Linked DNA regions of Homo sapiens. The protein of the gene in region 1 interacts with the protein of each later gene in a pairwise test. Each region holds a gene or a part of one and is shown on either strand. Other genes may lie near its edges. The genes, in order: TMEM219 and IL13RA2.

The links.
Region 2: the proteins of TMEM219 (region 1) and IL13RA2 interact in binary tests that used the Homo sapiens proteins (3 or more experiments, as listed by UniProt).

What each region holds. Positions count from the first base shown.
Region 1 is NC_000016.10:29,957,279-29,965,175, forward strand, and holds the start of TMEM219 (insulin-like growth factor-binding protein 3 receptor isoform 1 precursor), read left to right. Parts: upstream 1-4,800; 5' UTR 4,801-4,854; exon of another isoform or gene 4,855-5,828; 5' UTR 5,829-5,865; coding exon 5,866-6,030; intron 6,031-6,121; coding exon 6,122-6,311; intron 6,312-7,897. UniProt on the Homo sapiens protein: Cell death receptor specific for IGFBP3, may mediate caspase-8-dependent apoptosis upon ligand binding.
Region 2 is NC_000023.11:115,003,255-115,007,678, reverse strand, and holds the end of IL13RA2 (interleukin-13 receptor subunit alpha-2 precursor), read left to right. Parts: intron 1-2,363; coding exon 2,364-2,482; intron 2,483-3,572; coding exon 3,573-3,599; 3' UTR 3,600-3,697; downstream 3,698-4,424. UniProt on the Homo sapiens protein: Cell surface receptor that plays a role in the regulation of IL-13-mediated responses. Functions as a decoy receptor that inhibits IL-13- and IL-4-mediated signal transduction via the JAK-STAT pathway and thereby modulates immune responses and inflammation.

The DNA.
Region 1 (7,897 bases):
GCCGGGCGCGGTGGCTCACACCTGTAATCCCAGCACTTTGGGAGGCCGAGGCGGGCAGATCACGAGGTCATGAGATCGAGACCACCCTGGCTAACATGGTGAAACCCTGTCTCTACTAAAAAATACAAAAAATTAGCTGGGTGTGGTGGCAGGCACCTGTAGTCCCAGCTACTTGGGAGACTGAGGCAGGAGAATGGTGTGAACCCAGGAGGCGGAGCTTGCAGTGAGCAGAGATCATGCCACCGCACTCCAGCATGGGCAACAGAGCGAGACTCCGTCTCAAAAAAAAATTTTTTTTTGGCCAGTCACGATGTGTCACACCTGTAATCCTAGCACTTAGGGAGGCCAAGGCGGGTGGATCACTTGAGGTCAGGAGTTTGAGACCAGCCTGGCCAACATGGTGAAACCCCGTCTCTACTAAAAATACAAAAATTAGCCAGGGACAGTGGCATGCCTCTGTAATCCCAGCTACTCAGGAGACTGAGGCAGGAGAATCACTTGAACCCAGGAGTTGGAGGTTGCAGCGAGCCGAGATCACACCACTTCACTCCAGTCTGGGCGACAGAGCAAGACTCCATCTCAAAAAAAAAAAGTCTAGATGGGGCCGGGCAGGGTGGCTCACACCTGTAATCCCAGCACTTTGGGAGTCTGAGGCGGGTAGACGGCTTGAGCTCAGGAGTTCGAGACCAGACTGCACAACATGGTGAGACCCCGTCTCTACTAAAAATACAAAAAGAGAGAAAAAAAAATAGCTTGGCATGGTGGTGCACACTTGTGGTCCCAGCTACTTGGGCGGATGAAGTGGGAGGATTGCTTGAGCATGGTGAGGAGGGAGGTTGCACTGAGCCAAGATTGCGCCACTGCCCACCAGCCTGGGTGACAGACCAAGACCCTGTCTCAAAAAAAAAAAGAAACAAAAAAAAGGTGGGGCTCACTGGCTCACACCTGTAATCCCAGCACTTTGGGAAGCTTAAGGTGGATGGATCACTTGAGGTCAGGAGTTCGAGACCAGCCTGGATGACATGGCAAAACCCTGTCTCTACTAAAAATACAAAAAAATTAGCTGGGCCTGGTGACGCACGCCTGTAGTCCCAGCTACTAGGGAGGCTGAGGCAGGACAATTGTTTGAACTCAGGAGGCAGAGGTTGCCGTGAGCTGAGATCGCACCACTGCACTCCAGCCTGGGTAACCAGAGTGAAACTCTGCCTCCAAAAAAAAAAAAGAAGAAGAAGAAAAAAGGTTTAGGCAAACATGCACTTTTCCTGTTGCTTTTTTTTTTTTTTTTGAGATGGAGTTTCGCTCTTGTTGTCCAGGCTGGAGTGCAATGGCGTGATCTCGGCTCACTGCAACCTCCGCCTCCTGGGTTCAAGCGATTCTCCTGCCTCAGCCTCCCAAGTAGCTGAGATTACAGGCATATGCCACCACGCCCGAATAATTTTGTATTTTTAGTAGAGATGGGGTTTCTCCATGTTGGTCAGACTAGTCTTGAACTCCCAACCTCAGGTGATCCTCCCGCCTCGGCCTCCCAAAGTGCTGGGGTTACAGGCATGAGCCACTGCGCCCAGCCTGAACATGCCAGATTGTAGTTCCAGGAGGCCAGAGATCATGAATACTTTGTCCACCACTATATTCCCAGCCCACAGAATACACAGCCTGGCAGCCAACAGATGCTTATTGAATGAACGAGCCTCAACAGGGCTTTCTCATTCCCACATGCCATGCTGTGGTCAGGCTTAAATCATAACCCAACTTCTGCCACCTAATATATGTATGACCTTGGTTAAATTAAACCAGCAGTCCCCAACCTTTTTGGCACTGGGGACCAGTTTCATGGAAGACAATTTTTCCACCAGGGGAGGAATGGTTTCGGGATGATTCAAGCACATTACATTTATTTTGCACTTTATTTCTATTATTATTACATTATAAGGTATAATAAAATAATTATACAACTCATCATAAAGTAGAATCAGTGGGATCCCTGAGTTTGTTTTCCTGCAACTAGATAGTCCCATCTGATGTTGATGGGAGACAGTGAGAGATCATCAGGCATTAGATTCTCATAAGGAGCAACCTAGATCCCTCGCATGCGCAGTTCACAATAGGATTCATGCTCCTATGATAATCTAATGCCGCTACTGATCTGACAGGAAGCAGAGCTGAGGCGGTAATGCAGGCAATGGGGAGTAGCTGTAAATACAGATGAAGCTTCTCTCACCAGCCATTCACTTCCTGCTGTGCGGCTCAGTTCCTAACACGTCACGGACTGGTACTGGCCCCACGGCCCAGGGGTTGGGGACCCCTGACTTAAACTAAGGGCCAGCTTTCCAGAATAACATCCACTTTGAGGGCTTGTTGAGTGGATTAAGTCAAAATGTTGGTATACTTGGCTGGTGCGGTGGTTCACACCTGTAATCCCAGCACTTCGTGAGTCTGAGGCGGGTGGATCACCTGAGGTCAGGAATTTGAGACCAGCCTGGCCAACATGATGAAACCCCATCTCTACTAAAAATACAAAAAATTAGGCCGGGCGCGGTGGCTCACGCCTATAATCCTAGTACTTTGGGAGGCCAAGGCGGGTGGATCATTTGAGGTCAGGAGTTTGAGATCAGCCTGGCCAATATGGTGAAACCCTGTCTCTACTAATAAGTACAAAAATTAGTCAGGTGATAGTGGCGTGTGCCTGTAATCTCAGTTACTCGGGAGGCTGAGGCAGGAGAATCCCTTGAGCCTGAGAGGCAGAGGTTGAGGTGAGCTGAGATTGGGCTGTTGTTGAGTTGTAGGAGTTCTTTATATATTATAGATATTAACCCCTTATAAGATATATGATTTGATATTTCCTCTCATTCTGTTGGTTGCCTTTTCACTGTCCTTTCCTTTTTTTGTTTTTGTTTTTTGTGGGGCAGAGTTTTGATCTTTTGCCCAGGCTGGAGTGAAGTGGTGCAATCTCAGCTCACTGCAACCTCCACTCCCCAGGTTCAAGCGATTCTCCAGCCTTAGCCTCCGGAGTAGCTGGGATTATAGGCGCCCGGCACCATGCCTGGCTAATTTTGTACTTTTAGTAGAGATGGGGTTTCACCATGTTGGCCAGGCTGGTCTCAAACTCCTGACCTCAGGTGATCCACCCGCCTCGGCCTCCCAAAGTGCTAGGATTACAGGCTTGAGCCACCGTGCCCAGCCTGTTGTGTCCTTCGATGCACAGAAAAGACTCTTTTCTCTACTGAACGCCCACAGCACCCTTGTCAAAAATCATTTGACTAGTCAGGGCACAGTGGCTCACGCCTGTAATCCCAGCACTTTGGGAGGCCGAGGCGAGAGGACTGCTTGAGGTCAGGAGTTCGAGACATGCCTGGGCAACATGGCAAATGGCAAAACCCCGTCTCTACACACAATGCAAAAGTTAGCTGGGCATGGTGGGTGGCGTGTGACTACCGGCTGTCTCAACTACCCAGGAGGCTAAGGCGGGAGGATCTCTTGAGCCCAAGACGTCCAGACTGCAGCGAGCTTTGATTGTGCCACTGAACTCCAGCCTGGGCGATGACAGAGCAAGGCTCTGTCAAAAAAAAAAAAAAAAAAAAAAAAAAATCGGCCGGGTGTGGTGGTTCACGCTTGTAATCCCAGCACTTTGGGGGGCCGATGCGGGCAGACCACGAAGTCAAGAGATCAAGACCATCCCGGCCAACATGGTGAAACCTCGTCTCTACTAAAAATACAAAAATTAGCTGGGCGTGGTGGCGTGCGCCTGTAGTCCCAGCTACTCGGAAGGCTGAGGCAGAAGAATAGCTTGAATCCGGGAGGCGGAGGTTGCAGTGAGTCGAGATCGCGCCACTACACTCCAGCCTGGCGACAGACTGAGACCCCGTCTCAAAAAAAAAAAAAATCATTTGTATATGCGAAGGTTTTGTGCCACAAACTTTTGTGGCTGTTGATACAAACGACATGGCCTCTGCCTTAAGGAAGCCACAGTCGAATTAAATAGATTCCGTTTCAAGTAGCATCTGTCCTGTGTGCTTAGTGGGCACTGGGCCCATGTTTTCCCACATTTTACCCTTTAAGCTTCTGATCCAACCGGTGAGATAGATAGGATGATCCTCTTTAGTAGAGGGGTAAGCTTAGTCCCCTGAGAGCGCGGCTATGGCTTATGCGAGGGTACGGACAGTCAGGATTTGAACCCAAAGTTCCTGGCTCCATGTGTCATGCTACCTCCAGTCAGATGTTCTCACCTCCAAAACTTGGGCAGAAGTGAACTGAGATGCTCTCTACTGAGCAACTCTTCAGCTCCAGCATCCTATACATTAAGGAGTCACTAAAAGTCAGGGTCCACGAGAAAGGTGCAGATCGGGGTGCACAGAAGAGCGGAGTCCAAAACACCACTCCCAGCCCCAGTGGACAGAGTCCTCAAGTGGCAGCCCTGCAACTCTGAGCGGATGCCGAGTCCTCACCGGGAACCCGGGCGCGGCTGGTCTGTGCTATTGGCGCGGGTAGGGGACGCACAGCCCAAAAATGCCCGCGACAAGCTTCTGGGGCAGTTCTCGCCAGTCTCTCTGGAGGGAGCCTACGGGTTCTGCGACGTTTCTCGCACTTGCTCCCTGGCCTCGCTCCCGTTTCCACCCCTCCCACGGAGGTTTTCCTTTCTGGTGGCTCCTTCCTTGGGTGTCCCTTTGGTACGCCCCCACCCTGGCGGTGAGCTGCGAGGCTGGCGCCCGCGTGGCCACTGCGCATGCGGACCCGGCCGCGGGGCGGGGCCGCGCGAGGAGGAGGGTCGGGGACGGAAGCGCAGAGCACGGACCCCGCCCCCTCGCGGCCCCGCTCGTGACGTCGCGGGGGGCGCCGGCCTCCGCCCGGCCCCGAGGGGTAAGAGCGAGCGGCTGGCGGATCCGACGCGCGAGACCGGGAGGGGACGAGGGCGTTGCAATCGTTCGGGGCGGGGGCTTTCCGGGGAGGGGGTGCTCAGGTGCACCAGCGGCGGCGGACCCTCAGACTCTGCCCTCCCCTCCCTTTAACCCCCTTCCAGCCGGACGGGAGGCGGGGCAGGGCTGAGCATTTGTGACACCTACATTTCCGTGGCTCCCTTCTTTTCCCCCGACCCCTGTTTATCTCTTCGCCTTCCAGAAGTTCTTTTCCATCAGGCCGTCGCACCTTGCGTGGGAAGGAGCACCCCACTTGGAAGCAGGAGGCGGGGTTCAGATCTTGGCCCTACCCCTCCTGTGTTAAAGTCCGCGAGCCTCAGTTTCCCTCACAGTATTTTTTGCCTCGCCTTACCCGGTTTTGAGGATCTGTACGAGAAAGAGAAAGGAAGTGGACATTTGTTGAATTCCTGCATGGCCAAATACCACGCAGACTGCTTCATCCGCCACGTTTAATCCTTATTACTTGGTGTTCTCAGAACTCCCATTTCATGGATTCTTAAGCTCACAGAGTCAGTGAATAACAGAAAGGGATTCAGATCTAGCCGTTTAGCTGCACAGTGGAGTTCTTCTCCAGAGTCTTCCCTTGTCTGGGCTCTGGCTGGAACTATTCCTCAGCCAAATCCTCGCCCCAGAACAGTGCTTCCTGTTTCTCCAGCTGAGAAGTCTCCCTTTCAGTTTCCTTCTTCCAGCACGGAGTACACTGCTCTGCCTCCACTTAGATTACTTCAGAAATGAAATGCAGCAAATATTTATCCAGCAGTGCAGGGAGTTGAACTTTTGGAGTCGGGAACCTTGGATTCTTGTTCTGGCTCTGCCACTTACTGTGTGGCCTTGGGAAGTCCTTTGTCTTCTCTGAGCTTTCTTTTCTCTTTGCGTAAAAGCGGTGCTCTTGTCCCATTCTCCCTCCCTGTCTTCCAGCAGGCTCTCCCCGGAGGCTCAGCCCCCTCTGCTCCCCATGGGCAACTGCCAGGCAGGGCACAACCTGCACCTGTGTCTGGCCCACCACCCACCTCTGGTCTGTGCCACTTTGATCCTGCTGCTCCTTGGCCTCTCTGGCCTGGGCCTTGGCAGCTTCCTCCTCACCCACAGGACTGGCCTGCGCAGCCCTGACATCCCCCAGGTAAGTTCCCCACCCCCGTACCCGCTCTTCCTTCCAACCTAGACAGGCTTTTGCTGCTAATCTCATCTCACCCGTCTTCTTTTGCTCACAGGACTGGGTCTCTTTTTTGAGATCTTTTGGCCAGCTGACCCTGTGTCCCAGGAATGGGACAGTCACAGGGAAGTGGCGAGGGTCTCACGTCGTGGGCTTGCTGACCACCTTGAACTTCGGAGACGGTCCAGACAGGAACAAGACCCGGACATTCCAGGCCACAGTCCTGGGAAGTCAGATGGGATTGAAAGGTGAGATCAGAGGCTGGGTGTGGTGGCTCACGCCTGTAATCCCAACACTTTGGGAGGCTAAGGTAGGTGGATCATTTGAGGTCAGGAGTTCAAGACCAGCCTGGCCAACATGATGAAACACCATCTCTACTAAAAATACAAAAATTAGCCAGGCATGGTGGCAGGCGCCTCTAATCCCAACTACTCGGGAGGCTGAGGAAGGAGAATCGCTTGAACCCAGGAGATGGAGGTTGCAGTGAACCGAGATCGCACCATTGCACTCCAGCCTGGGTGACAGAGCAAGACTCTGTCTCAAAAAAAAAAAAAAAAAAAATCAGGTGCGGTGGCTCATGCCTGTAATCCCAGCACTTTGGGAGTCCGAGAAGGGCAGATCACGAGGTTAGGAGTTCGAGACCAGCCTGGCCAACATGGTGAAACCCCGTCTCTACTAGAAATACAAAAATTAACCTGGTGGTCTGGTTGCGGTGGCCCACAGCGGTAATCCCAGCAGTTTGGGAGGCCGAGGCGGGCAGATCATGAGGTCAGGAGTTTGAGTCCAGCCTGACCAACATGGTGAAACCCCATCTCTACTAAAAATACAAAAATTAGCCGGGCATGGTTGCACGTGCCTGTAATCCCAGCTACTCAGGAGGCTGAGGCAGGAGAATCACTTGAAGCCAGGAGGCGGAGGTTGCAGTGAGCCGAGATCGTACCACTGCACTCCATCCTGGGCAACAGAGCAAAACTCGGTCTCAAAAAAAAAAATTAGCCAGGCTTGGTGGTGCAAGCCTGTAGTTCCAGCTACTTGGGAGGCTGAGGCAGGAGAATTGCTTGAACCCGGGAGGTGGAGGTTGCAGTGAGCCAAGATCGTGCCACTGTACTCCAGCCTGGGAGACAGAGCAAGACTCCGTCTCAAACAAACAAACAAACAAAAATACAAAAAGTAGCCAGGTGTGGTGGCAGGTGCCTGTAGTCCCAGCTACTTGGGAGGCTGAGGCAGGAGAATCGCTTGAACCTGGGAGGCGGAGGTTGCAATAAGCAGAGATCACACCACTGCACTCTAGCCTGGGCAACAGAGACTCTGTCCCGCCCCGCGCCCCCCCCACCACCCTGCGCCAAAAAAAAAAAAGTAAGGTGAGATCACAGAGGACTGTGGGGTCGGGTATCAGAACACTCAGGGCTGGGCCCTGCCTCTGACCTCACCAATGATGACCTTGGGCACATCCCTGGACTTTAGTCACTTCTGTGATTAGGGCTTTCAGTGAACATGCTGCCGACAGGGTAGGTTTTCTATGAATGCTTTCTTCCTCTGCCAGTTCTGATGTTCTTTGAGTCTATCCTTGGAGGTAGGATGAAATGGGCTAGGTTTGACCTAATGTTTTCTCATCCTTTAGCCACCTCCTCCTAGAGGCCCCTTTTTCCTTAGCATAGTTCTGTATGCCACAAAAGATGCAGAAAAAAATTAGACACCATCAATTTCCAAAGAGCTATAGTCTTCTGGGAAAATGACAAGCGATAGGGAGAATGTGAAAATGTCAGTGGATGCCAATAATCCCTGTGTGACATTTGGCCTTATCTAAAATATGCTAAGATAAAGAGGGATGGAA
Region 2 (4,424 bases), on another chromosome or scaffold:
ATTCTTTTGAGAGATTGGCAGGAACTTATTTTAATCAATATTTTCATATGCTTTCAGTATTCAAGAGAACAGAAATCTTAAAGCAAGTATAGATCAGCATACATTTGTTTCTGGGTGTCTAATACTATTCAAAAGGAATATTTTTCTAATTAAAAGGTCATGAATAGTAAAATACATATTCATTCCATTCACTTCTAACACTGATTTAAAGTGATTTGTGATAAAGTCATTTAAATTACATAGCAATATAAACTAAAAAGCCTAAAGAATGAGGTAAAATGTGATTGTGCTTCACAATGTATTAGCTTTAAGAGTAGAAATTACTAATAAATGTTCAAAATTGAAGGAAATCAACTCAGCATTGCTCTTTCAGGTACATAGATATAGATGCAGCTCTAAATAAATATACTGATGCTGATACAGACAGATACTGCCATATCTATCAATCATTCATCTCCTTTCATGTTGTTCTACTATAGTGGAATCTCTATTATCTCCCTACGAATACAGTGGTATCATTGATCCCTTTCATTCATCAAATATTTATTAAGCACCTACTATGTATCAGACTCTTTTCAAGCATTACAGATATGGCAGTAAAGAAATCTCTACCCTCAGTGAACTTACATTTTATTTCCAATTGGGTAGAGATAGGCAATAAACGAGAAGCCTAATAGATTATATAATCACTAAGGATTATGGAGAAAAAATAGCAAGACAGTGGAAAACTCAACCAAGAGCTATATGGAATCAGAAAGAAGACTTACTAGTTTTATGTTTTTCATTTTTGTTACTGTTTTAAAAAATCAGGAAACTCTAAAGTTATGTCCTGAACTATATCTCGTCATTAGTCAATGCATTGTATAAAGTGGTTATGGTGAGTTTTTAGCCATATCCTCAAAAAATATATTCTTTTCTGTATTTTACATGCAATCTTATCAATGATAGTGATGCCTAAGATTTCTCTTGCTTTGAGGGAAATCTTTTCCTTTTTTTGGTACAGAGTCTTGCTCTATCACCCAGGCTGGAGTGCAGTGGCATGATGTTGGCTCTCTGTCACCTCTGCCTCTTGGGTTCAAGCGATTCTCGTGCCTCAGCCTCCTGAGTAGCTGGGATTACGGGCATGCACCACCACGCCTGGCTAATTTCTGTATTTTTAGTAGAGACAGAGTTTCACCGTGTCGGCTAGGCTGGTCTTGAACTCCTGGCCTCAAGTGATCCGTCCACCTCGGTCTCACAAAGTGTTGAGATTACAGGCATGAGCCACTGTGCCCAGCCCTCTTCATAGAATCTTAATGACTTTGAAATTAGAAACAAGGAATTTCTTGAGTTGCATGTGGTCTCAGTTCTTTAGGACATTTCTTATTGGATGTTTCAAGTTATAGAAAAATAGGACAATAATATTTTTGGAAATAAAAGTATGTCCTCTTCAGGATTGACTCTGTATGGGGAAAGCCAGTAGAACTTCAGCAAAGGAGCTTCCTGCCTTCCCACTGTTAATTTTGCATGACAGATAACTTACATCAGTAATTTCTCTGGATTATATTCTTGTAAATCTTCTCTGAACACGTGAATTTGACTGATAATTTTCTAATAGAAAACAAGATCGTGAGGAAATAGGACAAAGAAAAAGGTGGGATCAAGAGAGCTTTGTAGATGCGTGGCTAAGATTCAAGATCTTTTATATTACTCCAAAACAAGTGAGAGGTACTAGTTTAGGGAGACCAAACTTCGTCTGCTTTTTAAGTTTGCCTAGTGATTGCTCATTTCTTGCTATGCAGAAGAACCATTAAAACTCCATCCCTAAACTAACAAAGCAAAATCAAAAAGAAAAGAAAAACCTTATCCCTCCCTTTGGTCTTTAAAATATGAGACAACTTTAAAAAGGTAACCTTAAAAGATGATTTCCATTACTCACACAGGAATTTTTATTGAAGGATACCTCTTGCTTGGTACAGTATCCTATGATCTAAGTACACGTTTGACTTACTGAGAGTTAAGAGACAGACACACAGGACATGTTTGTTTAATCACTTGGCTAATATTTTGTCATTTTTAAATGGAGAATTCACAAGGTCAAATATAAACAAACTCATATCAGGAAATAAGAATTGTGTTTGGGGAAGTTATTTTTCTAAGTGAAAATAAGACATGTCACAGTTCAGTAAAGTACTTTTCTATATAAAAATTGCACAAATGAAAGGAACGCTATACTCAAACACAATTGTGGTATTTATGCACTGGCAAATATGACAGGGGTTTCCAAGCTCAACTCAGTTCTGAAGTATTTATAAAATAATTCAGTTTCAAAAATAGTGGCAAATGTCTAACACTTCCCCTTTCCGTGTGATTTTTAATCCTAGGTGAAGACCTATCGAAGAAAACTTTGCTACGTTTCTGGCTACCATTTGGTTTCATCTTAATATTAGTTATATTTGTAACCGGTCTGCTTTTGCGTAAGCCAAACACCTACCCAAAAATGGTAAGATGTGTAACATTATGATGTTTAGCCTGAGAATAGGAGATTTTTAAAATGTTCTGCACTTAGAACTGATGGAGATACATTTTATAATTTTGCTTGTTCGCTGTGGGTGTACAATTGATTCCGTATGGATTATGATGTTATCTTCAGAAAATACAGCAATTTTTAAAAATTAAGCTTACAAGACTTCATTTTGAGGTGGATTTACTTTTGTCGAAATCAAACTTTAAACATGAAATACTATTTGGCCCTAGATTAGAGAATGGTATACGGAAAGAGTTACAAGAGAAAAGCAGGATTGGGAGAAATAGAAGAGTGAATTAAAATGATCATAGACTGAAACACATATTACCAGTGTGCCACAGGCACAAGAACACATGCAAATGATAAAGCATGGTGCCTGCCTTTGGAGCACACACTCAAGTTAAGGGAGACAGGATCCATACAAAAAAATATAACCTTTGAGATGATTTTAGATGATTGCCATTTGAGTCGTGCAGATAATGCTATAGAATTTCAGAAAACAATAGGACCACTCTGGGTTGGGGGGCTTTAAGGAGGAGTTGTAACCTGGAGAAAAATATCTTTTTGGGACAGGGTCTCATTCTGTCACTCAGGCTGGAGAGGAGTGGTGCAATCATGGTTCACTGCAGCCTTGGTATCTAGGGCTCAAGCAATCCTCCTGCCTCAGCCTCCTGGGTAGCTGGGACTACAGGCAGGCACCAACATAGCGGGACTCCATCTCTATAAAAAATTTAAACATTAGCCAGACACAATGGCTAATGTTTAGATTTTTTATAGAGATGGAGTCCCGCTATGTTGCCCAGGCTGGTCTCAAACTCCTGGGCTCAAGCAATTCCTCCCACTTTGGCCTCCCAAAGTGCTGGGATTACAGGTGCCAGCAACTGTGCCCAGCTGAGAAAAGATATCTCAATGCCATATCTTTTCAAGATAGAGAGAAAAGTGAATGTGTATAGAATGCTTCACTTTGTTTGCTGAATGCTCTTGTGCTTATTCTCTGAGTTGTTAATCTTCAGTGAAATAGTTTGTGTTATTAGAGATGACTTGTTAATAACAGAGTTCTTTCTAGATTCCAGAATTTTTCTGTGATACATGAAGACTTTCCATATCAAGAGACATGGTATTGACTCAACAGTTTCCAGTCATGGCCAAATGTTCAATATGAGTCTCAATAAACTGAATTTTTCTTGCGAATGTTGAATACGTCTTATTTTTAAATATTGTTGTATTTAAATAGGCTTTTGAGTACTCAAAGCCTCAGCTAGTAGTACATTTTCTGGATTCTATTAACAGTTTCTTTTCTCATAAATTCATAGTGAGAGTGCTGCACGTAGTTCTCCAATCAAGGTATGAGTCAGGTTTTATATTTATGATGTATTAATAAAACAATGTGACTTCACAGATTGCACTAAGCCACAGAGATATTGTCAGATCTTGGAAAATGAGATTCTAGTTTTTGTTGTTGTTTGTTTTAAACTGCACTTGGGATGAAAGTATACAGTATGAATAAAACTGTTTGGCTTTAGGCTGGGCGCAGTGGCTCATGCCTGTAATCCCAGCACTTTGGGAGGCCAAGGCAGGTGGATCACCTGAGGTCAGGAGATCGAGACCAGCCTGGCTAACATGGTGAAACCCCATTTCTACTAAAAATACAAAAAATTAGCCAGGCATGGTGGCGCGTACCTGTAATCCCAGCTACACAGAAGGCTGAGGCAGGAGAATCGCTTGAACCTGGGAGGCGGAGGTTGCAATGAGCCGAGATCATGCCATTGCATTCCAGCTTAGGCAACAAGAGTGAAACTCTGTCTCAAAAAAAAAAAAATCGTTTTGCTTTAAAAGTAACCTGTGAAAAGTATTAGGAAGCAAGAATTTTAAATACATTCATAGTCCTAAGTATATTCTTTGCATTTCATGAAGAAAA